Homo sapiens: one gene and its partners. The protein of the gene in region 4 interacts with the protein of the main gene of each other region in a pairwise test. Each region holds a gene or a part of one and is shown on either strand. Other genes may lie near its edges.

What was found. The genes of interacting proteins can lie anywhere in the genome.
Region 1: the proteins of ADAMTSL4 (region 4) and CTSB interact in binary tests that used the Homo sapiens proteins (3 or more experiments, as listed by UniProt).
Region 2: the proteins of ADAMTSL4 (region 4) and ADAMTSL5 interact in binary tests that used the Homo sapiens proteins (3 or more experiments, as listed by UniProt).
Region 3: the proteins of ADAMTSL4 (region 4) and TFAP2D interact in binary tests that used the Homo sapiens proteins (3 or more experiments, as listed by UniProt).

Annotation. Positions count from the first base shown.
Region 1 is NC_000008.11:11,854,517-11,858,832, forward strand, and holds part of CTSB (cathepsin B isoform 1 preproprotein), read right to left. Parts: intron 3,425-4,316; exon of another isoform or gene 3,342-3,424; intron 1-3,341. UniProt on the Homo sapiens protein: Thiol protease which is believed to participate in intracellular degradation and turnover of proteins. Cleaves matrix extracellular phosphoglycoprotein MEPE. Involved in the solubilization of cross-linked TG/thyroglobulin in the thyroid follicle lumen.
Region 2 is NC_000019.10:1,504,451-1,508,015, forward strand, and holds the end of ADAMTSL5 (ADAMTS-like protein 5 isoform 2 precursor), read right to left. Parts: coding exon 3,548-3,565; exon of another isoform or gene 3,542-3,547; intron 3,194-3,541; coding exon 3,107-3,193; coding exon of another isoform or gene 3,095-3,106; intron 2,956-3,094; coding exon 2,792-2,955; intron 2,479-2,791; coding exon 2,289-2,478; intron 2,212-2,288; coding exon 2,140-2,211; intron 1,867-2,139; coding exon 1,565-1,866; 3' UTR 572-1,564; downstream 1-571. UniProt on the Homo sapiens protein: May play a role in modulation of fibrillin microfibrils in the extracellular matrix (ECM).
Region 3 is NC_000006.12:50,711,540-50,716,396, reverse strand, and holds the start of TFAP2D (transcription factor AP-2-delta), read right to left. Parts: upstream 2,872-4,857; 5' UTR 2,342-2,871; coding exon 2,303-2,341; intron 1,282-2,302; coding exon 784-1,281; intron 1-783.
Region 4 is NC_000001.11:150,555,099-150,560,094, forward strand, and holds part of ADAMTSL4 (ADAMTS-like protein 4 isoform 1 precursor), read left to right. Parts: intron 1-330; coding exon 331-467; intron 468-855; exon of another isoform or gene 856-954; intron 955-1,049; exon of another isoform or gene 1,050-1,063; coding exon 1,064-1,268; intron 1,269-1,509; exon of another isoform or gene 1,510-1,522; coding exon 1,523-1,695; intron 1,696-1,840; coding exon 1,841-1,952; intron 1,953-2,051; coding exon 2,052-2,237; intron 2,238-2,395; coding exon 2,396-2,525; intron 2,526-2,594; exon of another isoform or gene 2,595-2,626; intron 2,627-2,846; coding exon 2,847-3,051; intron 3,052-3,138; coding exon of another isoform or gene 3,139-3,194; exon of another isoform or gene 3,195-3,374; coding exon 3,375-3,551; coding exon of another isoform or gene 3,552-3,626; exon of another isoform or gene 3,627-3,650; intron 3,651-3,863; coding exon 3,864-4,067; intron 4,068-4,188; coding exon 4,189-4,368; intron 4,369-4,662; coding exon 4,663-4,807; intron 4,808-4,961; coding exon 4,962-4,996. UniProt on the Homo sapiens protein: Positive regulation of apoptosis. May facilitate FBN1 microfibril biogenesis.

The DNA of each region.
Region 1 (4,316 bases), on a different chromosome or scaffold from region 4:
TTGGTCTGTGGGCCATGTCACCCAGTCTGGGGTACAGTGGCACAATCTTGGCTCACTGCAGCCTCCACCTCCCAGGTTCTTAGCCTCCCAAGTAGCTGGGATTACAGGTGTGCGCCACCACACGCACCTAATTTCTGTATTTTTAGTAGAGATGGGGTTTTACCATGTTAGCCAGGCTGGTCTCGAACTCCTGACCTCAGGTGATCCACTGGCCTCAGCCTCCCAAAGTGCTGGGATTACAGGTGTGAGCCACCGCACCCAGCCAGTGGAAAAGAGCTCTGACGGGAGCCCAGCCCTCTGGGGCAGCACATGTGTCGTAAAATGCTGGGTGATGCTCATCAGCACAGCACCCAACGGACCACTCAGAAGCACATCCTCCGTGGAGGAATCAGCGTTACCTAGGTGAGGCCAGAGAGGAAACAGGACAGTGCTTGTACAAGTGGCTGCCTGAAGTCTGAATCTTCACACTGGACTCCTCACACACAAAAAGTACCACATGCAACACAGAATTGTTTTGTTTTTTTGAGACGGAGTCTTACTCTGTCCCCCAGGCTGGAGTGCAATGGCATGATCTCGGCTCACTGCAACCTCTGCCTCCTGGGTTCAAGCTATTCTCCTACCTCAGCTTCCCGAGCAGCGGGATTACAGGCATGTGCCATCATGCCCAGCTAATTTTCATATTTTTAGTAAAGACAGGGTTTCACCATTTTGGCCAGGCTGGTCTCGAACGCCTGACCTCGTGATCCACCTGACTCAGCCTCCCAAAGTGCTGCGATGACAGGCGTGAGGCACCGCACCAGGCCCACAGATCTTAATTTAAAAAGTTTTATGAAAAAAATCAATGCCCTTTGAAAAACAGGCTGGGTGCGGTGGCTGATGCCTATAATCCCAGTACTTTGGGAGGCCAAGGCAAGTGGATCACTTGAGGCCAGGTGTTCAACACCAGCCTGGACAACATTGTGAGACCCCATCAATATAGAAAATAAAGTTTTTTAAAAAGGTAATGCTGGAGGAAAGCTTAGGATTGACAGGAAACACAGCCTTCAAGGGAAAATGCTTGCATTACACTGAAAAGTCTCTTTAAAACAAAAACTGACGAAACAAAGCAGTACTCACATATACTTTAGGCTTCGTTTCCACAAAAGGCTCTTCAAAGTCAGAAAAATGGAACCAGCATAATAGAAAAACTACAAATGGCCAACACAGATAAAAATAAGTTCAACCGGCATGGTGGCTCAAGCTTGTAATCTCAGCACTTTGGGAGGCTGAGGCAGGTGGATCGCCTGAGGTCAGGAGTTTGAGACCAGCCTGGCCAACATGGTGAAACCCCGTCTCCACTAAAAATACAAAAATTACCCAGGTGTGGTGGCAGGTGCCTGTAATCGCAGCTACTTGGGAGGCTGAGACAGGAGAATTGCTTCAACTCACTTGAACCCAGGAGGTGGAGATTGCAGTGAGCCAAGATTTCACCACTGCATTCCTGCCTGGGTGACAGTGAGACTCTGCCTCAAAAATAAAATAAAATAAAGTAAAATAAGTTCAACCTCAGGGAGGTGCAGATAAAATCAAGGAGGTATTCAGCATGTATCAGATTGGCAAGGGCTGGACAGTTTGGCACTTCTTGCAGGGCTTAGGAAGTGGGGAAACGGAAGGCATGATAATGAGTGCCTGGGGTGGGTGGGCACAACCACCGAGACATCAACCAGCAACGCCCACCAGTTTCTAAATCTGCATGTCCTGGAAATGAATCAAGTATCCAATAACAGAGTAACTGTTAAATTACGGTAAGTGGTTAAATAGAATATGAAGCAACCATTAAAAAAGCAATTAGTTGGTGGGGCACGGTGGCGCATGCCTGTAGCCGAGGCGGTTGGATCACCTGAGGTCAGGAGTTAGAGACCAGCCTGACTAAGGTGGTGAAACCCTGTATCTACTAAATACAAAAAATTAGCCAGGCGTGGTGGCGCATGCCTGTAATCCCAGCTACTTGGGAGGCTGAGGCAGTAGAATCACTTGAACCCAGGAGGCAGAGGCTGCACTCCAGCCTGGACGACAGATTGAGACTTCATCTAAAAATAATAATAATAAAATAAAAGTAAAAAACCAACTAGTTGAAGTGAATTCTATTGTATTAACAGAGTAAAAATGCCCCAAGTCCCAATGTTAAGTGGGGAAAAAGCAAGCTGTGGGTGACTGAGGACCATAAGCATCTGACCCTCTCAGCAATCTACACATGTAGGAACACTCCTGCCACTACATGCAAAATGCCAAGGAAGATGCACGGCAGTCGGTCACTACGGTGGGGAGACTTTTTTTCACAACATACCCTTACTTTTAAGAAAAAAAAAAAAGTGAGTATGTTCCTATTATTTCAGTTTTGTTTCTTCTAGGAAAAATAGTTGGCAGTATTACTAAAGGCCCTGAGCCACCAAACTGATAAAAGGACATTTGTTTTAATGATTCCTCAGAGCATTTCCAATTTGGTCTTCCTTCCCACCAATGAGGCTTCCTCCCTAGTGACTTTGAGATGGGAGTCTCGCTCTGTGGCACATGCTGGAGTACAGTGGCGCAATCTTGGCTCACTGAAACCTCTACCTCCCAGGTTCAAGTGATTCTTGTGCCTCAGCCTCCTGAGTAGCTGGGATTACAGGCCTGTGCTACCACGTTTGGCTAATTTTTGTAGTATAGTCCGTGTTTCGTTATGTTGGCCAGGCTGGTCTTGAACTCCTGGCTTCAAGGGATCTAACTGCCTCAGCTTCCCAAAGTGCTAGGATTACAGGCATGAGCCACTGGACCTGGCCCCTAGTGACTTTCTTAATAATCTTCCCCTTTTCCGTGACTCGTGGGTAGGCAGCGTCTCACGTGGCCATGCATGTCAGTGACCCACACAGCCTCCACACTGTGAGGTTAGCATGTCTCGTGGGCAGACAGCAGTGTCCTTGGATGTACCCGGGGGCTTTGTGCTGTAGAGATGTTATTTTAAATAATAAGCCAAGTCGAGGATGGGAGCGTTTCCATGGCAACTTGAATTTTAAAACCAAGATTTCTTTGGTTACTGTGGTGGCTGAGAACACAGGCAGCTGCCATGTCCAGTGGCTCTCAACTCCTGGAGGACAACCTGCCGTGGCCATTCCCTGGAGTCCCACAGGGCCCCCTCGCCACTTCACTAGCAGGCGACTTCCCTGCACCCGCCCTCCTTTTCATGGTTCCCAGGCCCTCCCACACCTCCCTGTGCTCCCTACTCATTCCCAGGCTCCCCGGGGCCACCGCTGCCAGCCCCAGGGCCCAGCCCATTCCACTAGTCCCAGGCTGAGCGCTGGGAAGTTCTTTCAGCCCCGCACCTTGGCCCAGGGCTGTGGTGTTCCTGGCTTCTCTGCTCCTCCCCTATGGTATCCAGGTTGGGGCTCAAGGGGCCGCCAGCGTGCTGCAACCGGACGATAAAATGAGCCCTGCACTTGGAGTCAGGAGACCTGCATTTGGATCTGGCTCTGCCACTGACTAAATGGCACCCTTGGGGTCTGACCTTCCCCAAGCCTCAGTTTCACCACCTATAAAATGGAGCTAGTAACCATCGTGTCTCAGGTGGCAGTCAAGAATGAAATGAGGAGGACCAAAGCGCCGGCACATGCCTGGCATGCAGTGATAAGGTAGGAAGGGCACTCGCTCCAGCGGGCTCTGTTCCCTCCCTCTCTCCTCTAACACTTCTAGCTCTCAGTTCACACTAAACCTATTCCAATAGGTCCCCAACGCCAGGAAGAGTCTAAATGAAAACAAGTTTGTTTTTTTTGTTTGTTTTAAGACAGGATCTCACTCTGTTGCCCAGGCTGGAGTGCAGTGGCACGATCATGGCTCACTGCAAACTCTGCCTCCTGGGCTCAAGAGATCTGCTCCCCTCAGCCTCCTAAGGAGCTGGGACTACAGGCATACACCACTACGCCCAGCTTTGTATTTTTTGTAGAGATGGGGTTTTGCTATGTTGCCCAGGCTGGTCTCAAACTCCTGGACTCAAGTGATCTGCCCGCCTTGGCCTCCCAAAGTGTCGGGATTATAGGTGTGAGCCACCATGCCCAGTAAAACAAGCTCTTAACTTCAATTAACCCCAGCATTTAACATCCAAAAATGCTTCCACTCTTGAGGGTCCCGAGACTGCTGAGAACTCAAAAAGTGTCAAGCCAAACACAGAGGTCCTGACAGCAGTGGCAATCTCACTCCATTGTGCAACAGGCGCCTTTCTCTCCACAACAACGCAAATCTCAATCACTCTGGACAAATGCAGATGGTGAAAGTGACAAGCTGAGCTGTTAACAGCTTTCCAG
Region 2 (3,565 bases), on a different chromosome or scaffold from region 4:
AAGCCCCATTCATTCCCCACCTGCTCCTATCCTCCTCTATTCCCTGCCCTCACCTCACACAGTGTCAGACGTGCAGGGAGGAGGTGAGGCTGGACCAGGAGGAGGGGTGGGGTGCGTGTGAACATGCGTGCCTACCCATGAGCAAGGTCGAGACGGGGTTCTACCAGCGTGTCCCTGAGTCTCTGTGACCGAGTGCATGTGACTGGGGTGCTTAAAAAAAAAAAAAGTGCTCTGCAGCCATAAAAAAGGATGAGTTCATGTCCTTTGCAGGGACATGGATGAAGCTAGAAGCCATCATTCTCAGCAAACTCACACAGGAACAGAAAACCAAACACCACTTGTTCTCACTCACAAGTGGGAGTTGAACAATGAGAACACATGGACACAGGGAGGGGAACATCACACACCGGGTCCTTTGTGGGGTGGGGGCCGAGGGGAGGGAGAGCATTAGCACAAATACCTAATGCATGTGGGGCTTAAAACCTAGATGATGGGTTGATGGGTGCCACAAACCACCATGGCACGTGTATACTAATGTAATAAACCTGCACATTCTGTACACACCCAGAACTTAAAGTAAAATTTTTTTTTAAAAAGTGCTTGTAAAAATTAAAGAGGAATAAAAGGGGGGTGAACAGCCAGTACGATAGTGCATGCCTGAAATTCCAGTGCTTTGGGAGGCCGAGGCAGGAGGATCGTTTGAGGCCAGTAGTTGGAGAGCAGTGTGGGCAACGTAGCAAGACCCCATCTCTACAAAAAATTTAAAAGTTAGCCGGGCATGGTGATTCACACCTGGAGTTCCAGCTGCTGTGGAGGCTGAGGTGGGAGGATCGCTTGAGCCCAGGAATTTGAGGCTGCAGTGAGCCATGATTGCACCACCGCACTTCAGCCTAGGTGACAGAGCAAGGGTCTACCTCAGAAAAAAAAAAAAAGGAGGAGCAAGCACGTGTTGATGGGTGGAAATCCAGCCAGAAATGCTGAGGCTGAAAAGATTGTCTCCGAGTTTCCTGGTAGCCAGGGGAAAAGGGGAAATTGGTACGTTGGTACGTTACAGTGCCTGGTTAGGCATGTCTTCTAAGGGGCATGCCTGTTTGTGACAGTGTCTCTGCCCTTCACACATGAGGGTGTGTGTGAGTAGCAGAGAGCAGAGACAGCACAGTGTCTGGGAAGTAAACAGATGATCTTCTGGGTACCCAGGGCAGCAGGGTGTCATGCTCGTTCATGACAGTGTCTCCAAGCAAGTGTGACGCGCGCAAAGAGAAAGAAAGCAGCGTTAAACTTTCTGAGTATAAATAGCTATGAGCTTCCTGGCAGCCAAGGAGAGAGGCGAAATAAAAGTCAGAGTCTCCTTAGTGCCTCCTCACCAGTGCCTGCCGGCTTGTGACAGTGGCTTTGACTGCATGCAGAGGTGTCTTAAGCGTGTGTGGGAGGGAGTCACATAGCTGCACAGGTGGGACGTATTTCAGAGCTGCCTGGAAGCCAGGGTGAGAGGGGAAATACGTTGACGTTGAGGCTGGTCAGATGTATCTTTCTTGCTGTGTGTGGCCGGGGCTCCTGCAGGGGCTCAGCCAGGACAGCGCCGGGCAGTCAGGCGTATGCGGCTGTCCTCCGCAGGGCTCCAGGGCCGGGCGTAGCCGGCGTGGGGCAGCAGCAGCTGGTCCTGTGTGCCGTCGGGGCTGACAAGACGCTGGACAGCCATCAGGTAGTCCCGGTGGGGTGCCAGCATCGGGCAGGGGCAGTGGCCTGGCGCCCACACGTACTCGCGTGCCCGCAGTGGCGAGCGGTTCTTGTAGACGAGCTGGATGCGCACCTCATAGCGGGTCTCCTGGGCCTGGTGGTGGTGGCCCAGCACTCGGGCCTGGAACACTGTTGAGGGGACGTGCTAAGCTGGCTGGCTGCTCAACTCTGCGCAAATCTCTACGCCCCCTCCCTTGCCAGAAGAGGGACTGAGGGTCAGGTGGGACCTCGGGATCTATAGGGACTAGAGTCAGGATCACGTCAGGGATCAATGAGGGATTAGGGTCAAGAGGCAAATTAGGATCAGAAGAAGGGGTCAAGGGTAAAGTCAGATTAGGGTCAGAGGTCAGGAGGAGGCCAGGTTAGTAGGGGCTAAGTCAGGGTAGAGGTCGGGGGTCTCACCAAAGTCACTGCCGCAATAGTGGAGTAGTCGGTGGGCGCGGCCGCGGGTGTCAGGGCAGGGTGGGCAGGGGTCTGTGGGATGGGCGGTGCTGTGAGGGGCACAGGCCTCAGTCCCCACTCATCCCCCACCCTGGCTGTCCCCACCTCACCTGGGGCCAGCGTTGGGGTCTGTGCAGGGGTGACAGCAGGGGCTGCGGGGGGCTGAGGCTCCACCCCCCGGGGCTGAGGCTGCCTCAGGGGCCAGCCCAGGGCCTGCACACGAGCCTGGAAGGGGCTGTAGCGCTCCCGAGGGAGCCAGAACTCAAACTCGATGCCAGGGTTGGGCTCCTGCAGGAGGACCTGGAGCAGGGGAGGGGACACAGGGAGCTTCACAGGAGGCTGGGGTTGCCTCCTGCCTCTGACCCTACGACCCCAGCCTCCCCACTTTGATCCTGTCTGCCCCCAGCCTCCCTCCTCTGATGCTCTGTCCCTAGCTGATCCCCTCTGACCCTGTCCCCACCCTCCCCCCTCTGATGCTCTGTCCCAGCCTCTCCCCTCTGACCCCAGACTCCCCCTTCTGGCCCCAGTCACCTCCACTCCTACCCTCTGTCCCCAGCCTCTCCCCTCTGTCCCCAGCCGACCCCCTCTGACCCTGTTGGAGGCCCAGTGGCACCTGTAGGAGCAGGTCATGGGAGGTGGGCCCGGCTGCTTGCAATGTCTCCTGGGGCCCTGTGTCTCGGGTGTAGACCACATGCGTGCCGGCCGCCTCGTAGGTCCCTGGTGGGCTGACCACCCAGTGCCCATTAAGCACGTAGCGCCCATCGCCCCCCATCAGTGCTGCAAGGGAACAGTCAGCCCTCAGGAACCTGTCGTCTCGTCTCCCAGACCCTGGGGTCCCCTCCTCAGGCCTCAGTCTCCCCATCTGTAAACAGGGACAACCGCCCCCGGGTGCCCAGCCGGGTGCCTCTCGCCTCACATCCTAGGATACCCAGGTGGTTGCGGCTCCTGTGTTCCACGCGGATGTGTCTGGCGCCCTCGGGGATCAGGGTCACGTTCCAGTACCCAGCGAAGGCACCTGGGTGGGAGGGTAGGAGGGTGTTGGGGTGCCAGTGGGGGTGTATTTGAGCGATGACTTGAGGATTTAATGAGCTACTGCGGGTAAGACAGCTAGCCAGGGTCCTGGGAACCGGAAAACCCTCCGTAAACGTTTGGAGTTACAATTACTATTGCTTCAGTGTGGCAGGGAAAGGGTTAAAACCCCATCTGTCCTGGGGAAGGGCGGGACAATCTGTCAGTAGCCAATCAGGATGAGGAGAAAGGGGGGCTGGGCCGCACACTGGCCAATCAGCACGGAAATTTGCTTCCGGGCCACGGCTCGTTAAAGGGCCCACTCTGACGTGTGTGCAGGGAGGGCGGGGCAGGTAGTCACCGGCGTCACGAAACACGC
Region 3 (4,857 bases), on a different chromosome or scaffold from region 4:
ATCTTTTTAAGGAGGTGCATTTTACGTAAAATGTAATGGCTGGAAGAGCAAAAATAAACTTGTAAATTACCTAACTGGGCTGCGGTTTTGAGTGCACGTCAGGCGGAGAGAATTAAACTCAACCCTACACCCTGGCAAAGTGCACTGTGCGGATTATTTCCTTGGGGTAGAACTTTGAGACTTTCATTTGCGATTCTTTACTTTCCACAGATATCTAGTGTATTTGGTGAAACTTTTGTTCAAGCTTAGGGTCCCAACAATTTCCTTAGAACAAGCCTGTTTGTAGTAAGATCTCCACAAGCTCAGTCTGAGACAAACACCTGGGACGCCTCGGAAGACCCTGTAAAGTGCGGAGATTGAGGGTACGATTGGTCATCAATTTATTGGATCTTACTCTGAGTCCGGTTGGCCCAACCCCAGACTCCTCGATCTCCTCCACCTCATCCCCTCAGGGTCACAAATGTTGATTCACAAAAGACTTCTGTGAGGACAAACCAAAGATGGAGGGCCGCAGCCGCCCGGACTCCCGCACTTCCAGGTGAAATGCTTGGATCCAATGAGAGGAAGAGAACGGGCACACTCCTCCTCTAATTGTTTTGATAACTTTCCATAAGTGGTGTGTGTGTGTGTGTGTGTGTGTGTGTGTGAGAGAGAGAGAGAGAGAGAGAGAGAGAGGAGAAGAGAGAGAGAAAGAGAGACGCTTTACAGTCGGAGCATTAATGGGGCGGCAGGGGGAGGGCGAAGAGGGGAGGGAGCAGACAAATTCGCTGCATGCTTATTTACCTGCAAGTCGTCTGCTCCCGCGGCGGCCAGCCCCAGGCTGGGCCCTGGCAGGAGTCTTTGATCTGGGTGCATTCCATACTGAGAGCCATGGCTCATGAGGGACAGGTCATGGCGGCGGTAGGCATCGAGGCAGCCCAGCTCCCGCCTCTGCTCGTCCAGGCAGGACGACTTGAGCGCCCGCGCATTGTGCAGGTTAATAAAGTCGGTGGGCTCCCCGTGGTGGATCTGCTGGTAGTACTGTTGCGAGTGGTGGAGAGAGTTCAGAGAGTAGGCGTCGGGGGTGACGGCCGGGTGGCTGTGCTGAAACTCGTAATGGAAGGACTGGTGGTGGAGCGGGGTGTACTGGTGGTTAGTGGAGAAGTAGGGGGACGCAAACTCGGTGCCGGTGGTGGAGTAAGTTAAAGGAGAGGAGGAGGAATAGGCGACAGTGGAATTGGCTACTGACTCCAGACAGCCAAGCTGCATCAAACGGTAGCTGTTTGATCCGTCGTGACGTATCTGGAAGGAAGAGGGGGAAAAGGGAGAGCAGAAAAACTTGAGGTTTGTCATTTTGCAACCAAGGCGCCGCTCTCCCGGAGCCAGGAGCTTTCTCTGGCACTCCAAGGAAAGCGAGCGCGTAGGACTCGGGCCGAGCCGAAGCCGGGTCTCAGCGTCTTCACCAGAGAGCCTTTGCAAACAGGCGAACTGGGGGTGGGCGGCCTCGTCCTCACAGTCGAGAGAGCGGAAAAAAAATCCCCCACCCTATATAGGTGCGGGTGACACCACACACGCACACACACGCACAGACACACACACACAGACACACACACAGCCCCTGCCCAACTTGTGCAGGGAGCTTGGCGTTGGGATCCAGGTTTGCAACTGACTCCGGGGCCGCGGGTAGCAGAGGAACGAGTCCACCCGAAAAGAGCGCTGGCCCGGGGCGCCTTGCCACTCTAACTAGACCCCAGCATCGAAATTCTGCGCCTGTCTATGCCGAGATGTTCGGCCCGGGCTGCTCAAAATCATTGTCCATATATTTTAAAAAATCCAGTCTGTGCAAATCGTTCAACTTGCTCCCTTCCTTAGTCATTCGAGGGAGGGAATCCGACTCCCTCTTTTCTGCTTCCCTTTCCTTGAATAAGCCCATTCCAAAAGGGGTGCGTTTTCCCCATCCCCCTTGTGCATCTACTGCTTCCCCACCAGTCCCTTTTCTTTGCTTTTCTGAGAATCTTTCTTTCCGTCTCTATCTCTTTCTCTTCACTCCCCCCTTTTATTATTAAGATTATGTTTTCCCGCTCATTATGGCAAATGTTTCTTAACGTGGCAGAGAGTTGCCCTCCCTGGCGACAGATGTCATAACGAACTTTCTCCCCTTTCCTTCCTTAACTTCCCCCGAAAGACAGATTATAATTAAACGTAACGGTCCAATATAGATTAGAGACAGGGGAGGCTGCCACCGCCGCCGCCACCGCCGCCACCGCCGCCGCCGCCACACACACGCGCGCTCAAAAAAAAAAAAAAAAAAAAGTAATAATACCTCGGCATCGTGGACTAGTCCCGGAAAGGTAGTTGACATGTTGGGTTTCTCCGAAAGCTTACGATGCAATTTCCCCCTCCAAAAAAAGAATCGGGAAAAAAAAATCCAAACTTCTTGTATTTTCCAATTTTTAAAGGAAAAAAAAAATGTTCTATAGGTAGATATCTAAATTGTAATGGTTTTGCCCGGATCAGATAGCTCCTTGCCTCGTACCCACTTAAAAACCTGTAGGAACAAAATTTTCCCTCTGCACAAAAGCAGCTCCCTGGAACAGATTTTGTACTTGCTGAGTATTTCTTTGGCTGATGTCGTAGGTCCCTTGGTAATATAGAAGTTTTGAAAATTAAGCATCAGCACTGAGAACTGGGAGGACAATAGGCAGAAGAGATTTATCCCAGGAGACAAGGAATAAATATTGTATCTTCGCCTAATAAGGAACTGGAGGTTCTTTCAACATTTTTATCCATTTTTTCCAACCTTTATCATGCTTTTCTATACCGACTGAGGTGGGGACTTATCTCTGTGGAGAGTATTTGCACACATTTTATTGTGAAGCTAGAGCTCTAGCTCCAATATATGTATATTAGAGATAGAAATATATATTAATTAAAGCTTCCTTTTATATGGGGAAGTGTTCATTCCTATTGGTTCCACTCCCTGGATGCTGAAAGCTGCTTTTTCCAACAACCACCCGAATCAATTTTGCCCAGATTGGGGTGTCTGCCTTCGCCCAAGTGGAAACAATGCTGGTCTTTCCATATTTACATTGAATTTGGGTTCTTTCCCCTTTTTTGAAAGGCAAAATCAAGCGGTGGCTTACACTTTTCAGCAGCTTTAAAAATAAATAATGGTGATGGACAGTCCCAAGTTTCCATCATCAGGAAATGGTGTAACTGGCAATGCATTTAGGAAAAATGCAAGGGAATAAAGATGTAAGACAAGATTCTACATTTAGGTAAACTGTTGTCTTTCACTCCCCAAACCAAACCATATCCCCCCTCTTTTGTGTTTTTCTTCTTCCCTTTTGGAAACACTGCTGGTGGTGGTGGGGTGTAGACCGTTCAGCAGTAGCATTAGGTTTTTGAACACTATTACCCCCAAAATAACCCTTAAATGCTTGGAAGTTATATTTTATAAATAGAGGGCAGGAAGGAAGCAGTGCACACATATTTCCATCTCTTCAGTGGATTTCTTGACTTTCAAACAGTTTTTGAGCTTTCCTTCCTTCAAAATTCAGCTTCCTCCACCAAGTTGTTTAGTGCCTGGAGGGGGTGGTGGTAGCTATAAACCTGAAATACTGAGGCTTTGCTCCTCAGTGTCTACATTATAAGAAAGAACTGGCTGGCCCCACAGACTCATCTCATAGATAGAAGGGGTAATTCAGTCTTAATTGCCATTTCATTTGGTTTGCTTTTAAGTGTTTAAGCTGAGAAGGTGTCTTAATAATAAGCCTCAGGCAAACAGGCATGTGGCTTTTTTTTTTTTTAGGTTGGGGTTTGGGAGGGTTTATTAGGATCTGCTCATGCAGGCTAACTGGGGCTGTCACTCAGAGCTCTTTGCTTTATACAAATGGACAAAGGCACACGACAAGAATTGAAATGCATTGTCTGAAATGGAGATACACGATTCTTCAGCCCCACATGGGGTCAGCAGCCAACACTTGTTCCCTATTTCAAGGTGTGCCAGTGCTGCCCCCCTCCCACCCCTCCTTGAAATTCCATATTTTGGCCTAATGAAGTAAGGAGACTGAGAGACCAATGATGACAAAAAGGAAGAATATCCAACTTAATCTTTAAGTAAAAGGGGTAAAATGAGTGCTGTTGGCTCTAGGGGTTGAATCCCAAAAATGTTTGCAGTGGAGTCTTTGTTTACCAGGTCTGAGTGGGGCCTCCATAGCTTACCCACGGAGAAAATAACTAATCATCTCTGGGAGATGGAGACTGCCCCCACGACCTTAACTCAGGCACCCCTGCCCCTGGGAAAGTGCAGACCATTCCCTGGAAGAATATGTAGGACTTGCAGGTTATCTTGGGGAATGCCCAGGTGCGCTTTTCCTGGTGGATGATATTGGCTTCCCAGTTAGTCCCGGTCAAATGGAAGAGGATAGCCCTTCTCAGACATGTTGCAATCTCCTTTCCAACACCCCTACTGTCAGATACACCTTCATTGAAGGTGACGGTACCTTCTCTTCCCAGTTTAGGTCCAGGCAGCAGACACAAAACCCTCTCCCCGGGGAACAACAATGAGGAAGCTCAGGAAGATGTGGCCGCCTGCTCTGCCTGCTGGCCCAGAGTGTTTGTTCCACATGTTTGTCCCTGTCTGGAATAAGAGCCACACATAGCCCCCCTCACCCCTGCCACCGCACTCAGAAGATATAGCTTTATGATACTCTCGGTAATGAGCTCTGGCCTTGAACTGAGTACACCCCATGGAATGACCTCCAGTAGCCTGGACCCTGTGAACATCAGGACATCACCAACTAACTGGCAATCATCGCATTCCACCCCCTAACCCCACTTTCATGGTTCACTTTCCTGAGTGACTTTTAGGTATCC
Region 4 (4,996 bases):
CCTGCCTCAGCCTCCCGAGTAGCTGGGACTACAGGCATGTGCCACCACGCCTGGCTAATTTTTGTATTTGTAGTGGAGATGGGGTTTCACCACGTTGGCCAGGCTGGTCTTGAACTCCTGACCGAATGATGCACCCACCTCGGCCTCCCAGAGTGCTGGGATTACAGGCATGAGCCACTGCGCCCGGCCCTGACCACCTCAGCTTGTGCTGTTGTCACATTTCCTTCATCCACAGTGACCTGGGCAACCTCAAGGTGCCCCCTCTGGGGCCTCTCTCAGCTAACCTCCCACCAGGGAGCCCACTAACCACCCTTCTACCCTGTCCCTTAGTCCAGGGCTCCCAGCGCTGTGAACTGAACTGCCGGCCCCGTGGCTTCCGCTTCTATGTCCGTCACACTGAAAAGGTCCAGGATGGGACCCTGTGTCAGCCTGGAGCCCCTGACATCTGTGTGGCTGGACGCTGTCTGGTGAGGGAAGACAGTGTGTGTGTGCACACACACATGCATATGCACACAGACACATGCCCCCATATGCATACACATGTACACACATATGTATGAACACATGCACACATGCAAGCACATACACACACGCATATGCGCACAGACACATGCACACACGCACACACACACACGCACACACACGCATATGCACACACATGCACATGCATATGCAGACACATGCATGCACATGTGCACACGTGCATGAACACATGCACACACACGTATGCAGACACATGCACACACATGTAGACACACATGCATGAACACATGCACACATGCACACACACGTATTTGCACAGTCTCAATTCAACAACAAAACACCATACTGAGATCACTGAGGGAGAATTCTCACCTGCCAAGCTGCGCTGAGCAGAGCCTGAAGGATCTGATCGGGCACCTGTCCATGTCCCTGGGTCTGGCTGGGGATGGTGGGGCTGTTTTTGTGCTCTCACTTGTGGCACAAAAAGCAGGGTAGTGAGCTGAGGCTCCCGAGGGGACCGGGGTGGGGTTGAGGTGGTGTCTGGCGTTCTGTGGCCACTGCCTCACCTCACTCTCTCCAGAGCCCCGGCTGTGATGGGATCCTTGGCTCTGGCAGGCGTCCTGATGGCTGTGGAGTCTGTGGGGGTGATGATTCTACCTGTCGCCTTGTTTCGGGGAACCTCACTGACCGAGGGGGCCCCCTGGGCTATCAGAAGATCTTGTGGATTCCAGCGGGAGCCTTGCGGCTCCAGATTGCCCAGCTCCGGCCTAGCTCCAACTACCTGGGTGAGCACCCAGCTGCCTCCCCTTCCACTTCCGTCTCTGTTCGGCCCTCCATACCCCTACTCAGAGCAGTGAGCAAGCCAAACAGGGGGAAGTCCAGGGCCTAGCCCCTCCCCTCGTGGAAGGAGTGAGGAAGCTGAGAGGGCTTGGGGGGATCTTAGGTTCTGGTGGGAGCTTCTATAGGCTAAGGACACGGTGTGGGAGGAGGAAGGTATTATCACCCTGGAATTTCCCGATCTCTCACCTCTGACCCGCAGCACTTCGTGGCCCTGGGGGCCGGTCCATCATCAATGGGAACTGGGCTGTGGATCCCCCTGGGTCCTACAGGGCCGGCGGGACCGTCTTTCGATATAACCGTCCTCCCAGGGAGGAGGGCAAAGGGGAGAGTCTGTCGGCTGAAGGCCCCACCACCCAGCCTGTGGATGTCTATGTGAGCCTGGGGCCAGGGGCAGCTGAATGCTGGGGAGGGAGGCTGTTCCCTCTGGGCAGAGCTGTGGTTGTCAAGATGGGAGAGAGAGCTGGTGGCATCCTCTTCTGGCCACCCCCACATATTCATTATCTTCTCTTCTCCCCAGATGATCTTTCAGGAGGAAAACCCAGGCGTTTTTTATCAGTATGTCATCTCTTCACCTCCTCCAATCCTTGAGAACCCCACCCCAGAGCCCCCTGTCCCCCAGCTTCAGCCGGGTAAGACTCTGACCCCTGCACTTGGAAGGAGGAGGGAGAGGCTGCAGGGCTGGCTCGGGGCAGTGGGGTGGCATCTGATTCGCCTGCTCCCCTGCACAGAGATTCTGAGGGTGGAGCCCCCACTTGCTCCGGCACCCCGCCCAGCCCGGACCCCAGGCACCCTCCAGCGTCAGGTGCGGATCCCCCAGATGCCCGCCCCGCCCCATCCCAGGACACCCCTGGGGTCTCCAGCTGCGTACTGGAAACGAGTGGGACACTCTGCATGCTCAGCGTCCTGCGGGAAAGGTGAGACATCACAGTGCGTTCCCCGCATCTCGGTCCAAACCCCCCAACTGACACTCCCGCATCCTGGATTGTGGGGCCACGCCCGACCCTGCGTCTGGGACACCACTGAGCTTGGGCTCTAGCCTCCTGCCTCCCTGGCTGCCTTCTCACCCACTCAGGTGTCTGGCGCCCCATTTTCCTCTGCATCTCCCGTGAGTCGGGAGAGGAACTGGATGAACGCAGCTGTGCCGCGGGTGCCAGGCCCCCAGCCTCCCCTGAACCCTGCCACGGCACCCCATGCCCCCCATAGTGAGTATGGGGGAGCCCACGGGGAGGGTTAGGGTACTGGAAACACAGCAGTTGCCCCCAGAATCTTACCTGAACTCTGCACTCAACGCAACATCTCCTGGCTGCAGAGAGACAACATTAGATTAGAAAGGCAGACATTCGGTAGGCAGCAAGAAAGCCATGGCAGGCTGAGCCCCCCAGGAACCCAGACTCCAAACGCCAAACGTGCCCACTCTCCTCTGAGGCCCCCACGTCCAGTGTGTCTTCCATCTCTGCTGCCACGGCAGCCCCACACATCTCATCTATGTCTCCGCCTCTTCCCTGCCCTGCTGGTGCCTGCAGCTGGGAGGCTGGCGAGTGGACATCCTGCAGCCGCTCCTGTGGCCCCGGCACCCAGCACCGCCAGCTGCAGTGCCGGCAGGAATTTGGGGGGGGTGGCTCCTCGGTGCCCCCGGAGCGCTGTGGACATCTCCCCCGGCCCAACATCACCCAGTCTTGCCAGCTGCGCCTCTGTGGCCATTGGGAAGTTGGCTCTCCTTGGAGCCAGGTGAGTTTGCCCAGGCAAGGAGGTGCTGGGGAGGGGAATGGGCACAGGTGAACAACAGCAGTGGTTTTTCAACTTCTTTTTCATCAGCAGAAACTATTTACAAACAGGGTTTCATATGGACCCCCAATATAGAAGTCAGATAAGGGACTGAACCAGGGACTGGGGGCCCAGGGCCCTAGGGCTCAGCCTCCTCCTCAGCCCACGAAGCCATGTGACTGCTGGGCTGGGGATCGAAGGCAGAGCCTGGTTCTGAAGCCTAGAGCTGGAAGCTGGCTGAGAAGGTCTGGGAAGCCCAGCTCCCTGGATTCCCCTCGCCCCCTCAGTGCTCCGTGCGGTGCGGCCGGGGCCAGAGAAGCCGGCAGGTTCGCTGTGTTGGGAACAATGGTGATGAAGTGAGCGAGCAGGAGTGTGCGTCAGGCCCCCCGCAGCCCCCCAGCAGAGAGGCCTGTGACATGGGGCCCTGTACTACTGCCTGGTTCCACAGCGACTGGAGCTCCAAGGTGAGCCCGGAACCCCCAGCCATATCCTGCATCCTGGGTAACCACGCCCAGGACACCTCAGCCTTTCCAGCATAGCTCAATAAACTTGTATTGATCAAGCGCCTGCTATATGCCTGACCCTGGGAACTCAGAGATAAGTGAGAACAACTTCCATGAGGGGCCCGGCTAGGATTCCTCGTCCGGGCCTGGTACCCGGGGACATTCCCAACCACCCAGGATTCGGACCCAGGATGCGTCCCTCCCTGCCCCCCTACTGTCCCTTGTGCCAGTCACCAGCAGGCCCCTCACACAGGCCGCTCTCCTCCTCCGCAGTGCTCAGCCGAGTGTGGGACGGGAATCCAGCGGCGCTCTGTGGTCTGCCTTGGGAGTGGGGCAGCCCTCGGGCCAGGCCAGGGGGAAGCAGGAGCAGGAACTGGGCAGAGCTGTCCAACAGGAAGCCGGCCCCCTGACATGCGCGCCTGCAGCCTGGGGCCCTGTGAGAGAACTTGGCGCTGGTACACAGGGCCCTGGGGTGAGGTAAGCTGAGCGCCTGCTGAGAGCAGGAAGGGGGTGCCAGTCCCAGTGGGATTCCTTGTGGGCACTTGGGGTGCTCTCTGTCCTCCCCTCCCCTCATCACCCTGCCCTCCCCCTACACTAGTGCTCCTCCGAATGTGGCTCTGGCACACAGCGTAGAGACATCATCTGTGTATCCAAACTGGGGACGGAGTTCAACGTGACTTCTCCGAGCAACTGTTCTCACCTCCCCAGGCCCCCTGCCCTGCAGCCCTGTCAAGGGCAGGCCTGCCAGGACCGATGGTTTTCCACGCCCTGGAGCCCAGTGAGTGTCTGGCTGCGCTGTCCTGCCCTGCTCAGCCTGGGCCCCTAGGGGAGGGGAGCTCCTCTCGCTGTACCCCCTCCAGGTCTCTCTGTGCCCCAGAATAAGCCCAGCCAAGCGTTACCACTGTCCTACTTCTTATAGACTTGGAGGAAAGATGGGCCCTCTCCATTTGGGATTTCACAATGTCCTAGGAGGGTCCCCACCACCACCTTTTGGGGAGAGAGGTGGCAGCCAGGGGTTAAGGAGAATCCCGGGCCTGGCAAAGGTCTGATATGATGGCTGGGGTCGCCCCAGTGTTCTCGCTCCTGCCAAGGGGGAACGCAGACACGGGAGGTCCAGTGCCTGAGCACCAACCAGACCCTCAGCACCCGATGCCCTCCTCAACTGCGGCCCTCCAGGAAGCGCCCCTGTAACAGCCAACCCTGCAGCCAGCGCCCTGGTAAAGAGCCCCCTCTCCCCAATCCCCAATACAGTGGATTAGCTGAAGTATGGGAGGAGATGAGAAAGGACCAGTGGGAATGGGCAGCACACCCATTCCCAGACGGGTGGGTCCTGGTGACTCTCTTGTGCCCACTGGCCTCCTCTGTCCCCAGATGATCAATGCAAGGACAGCTCTCCACATTGCCCC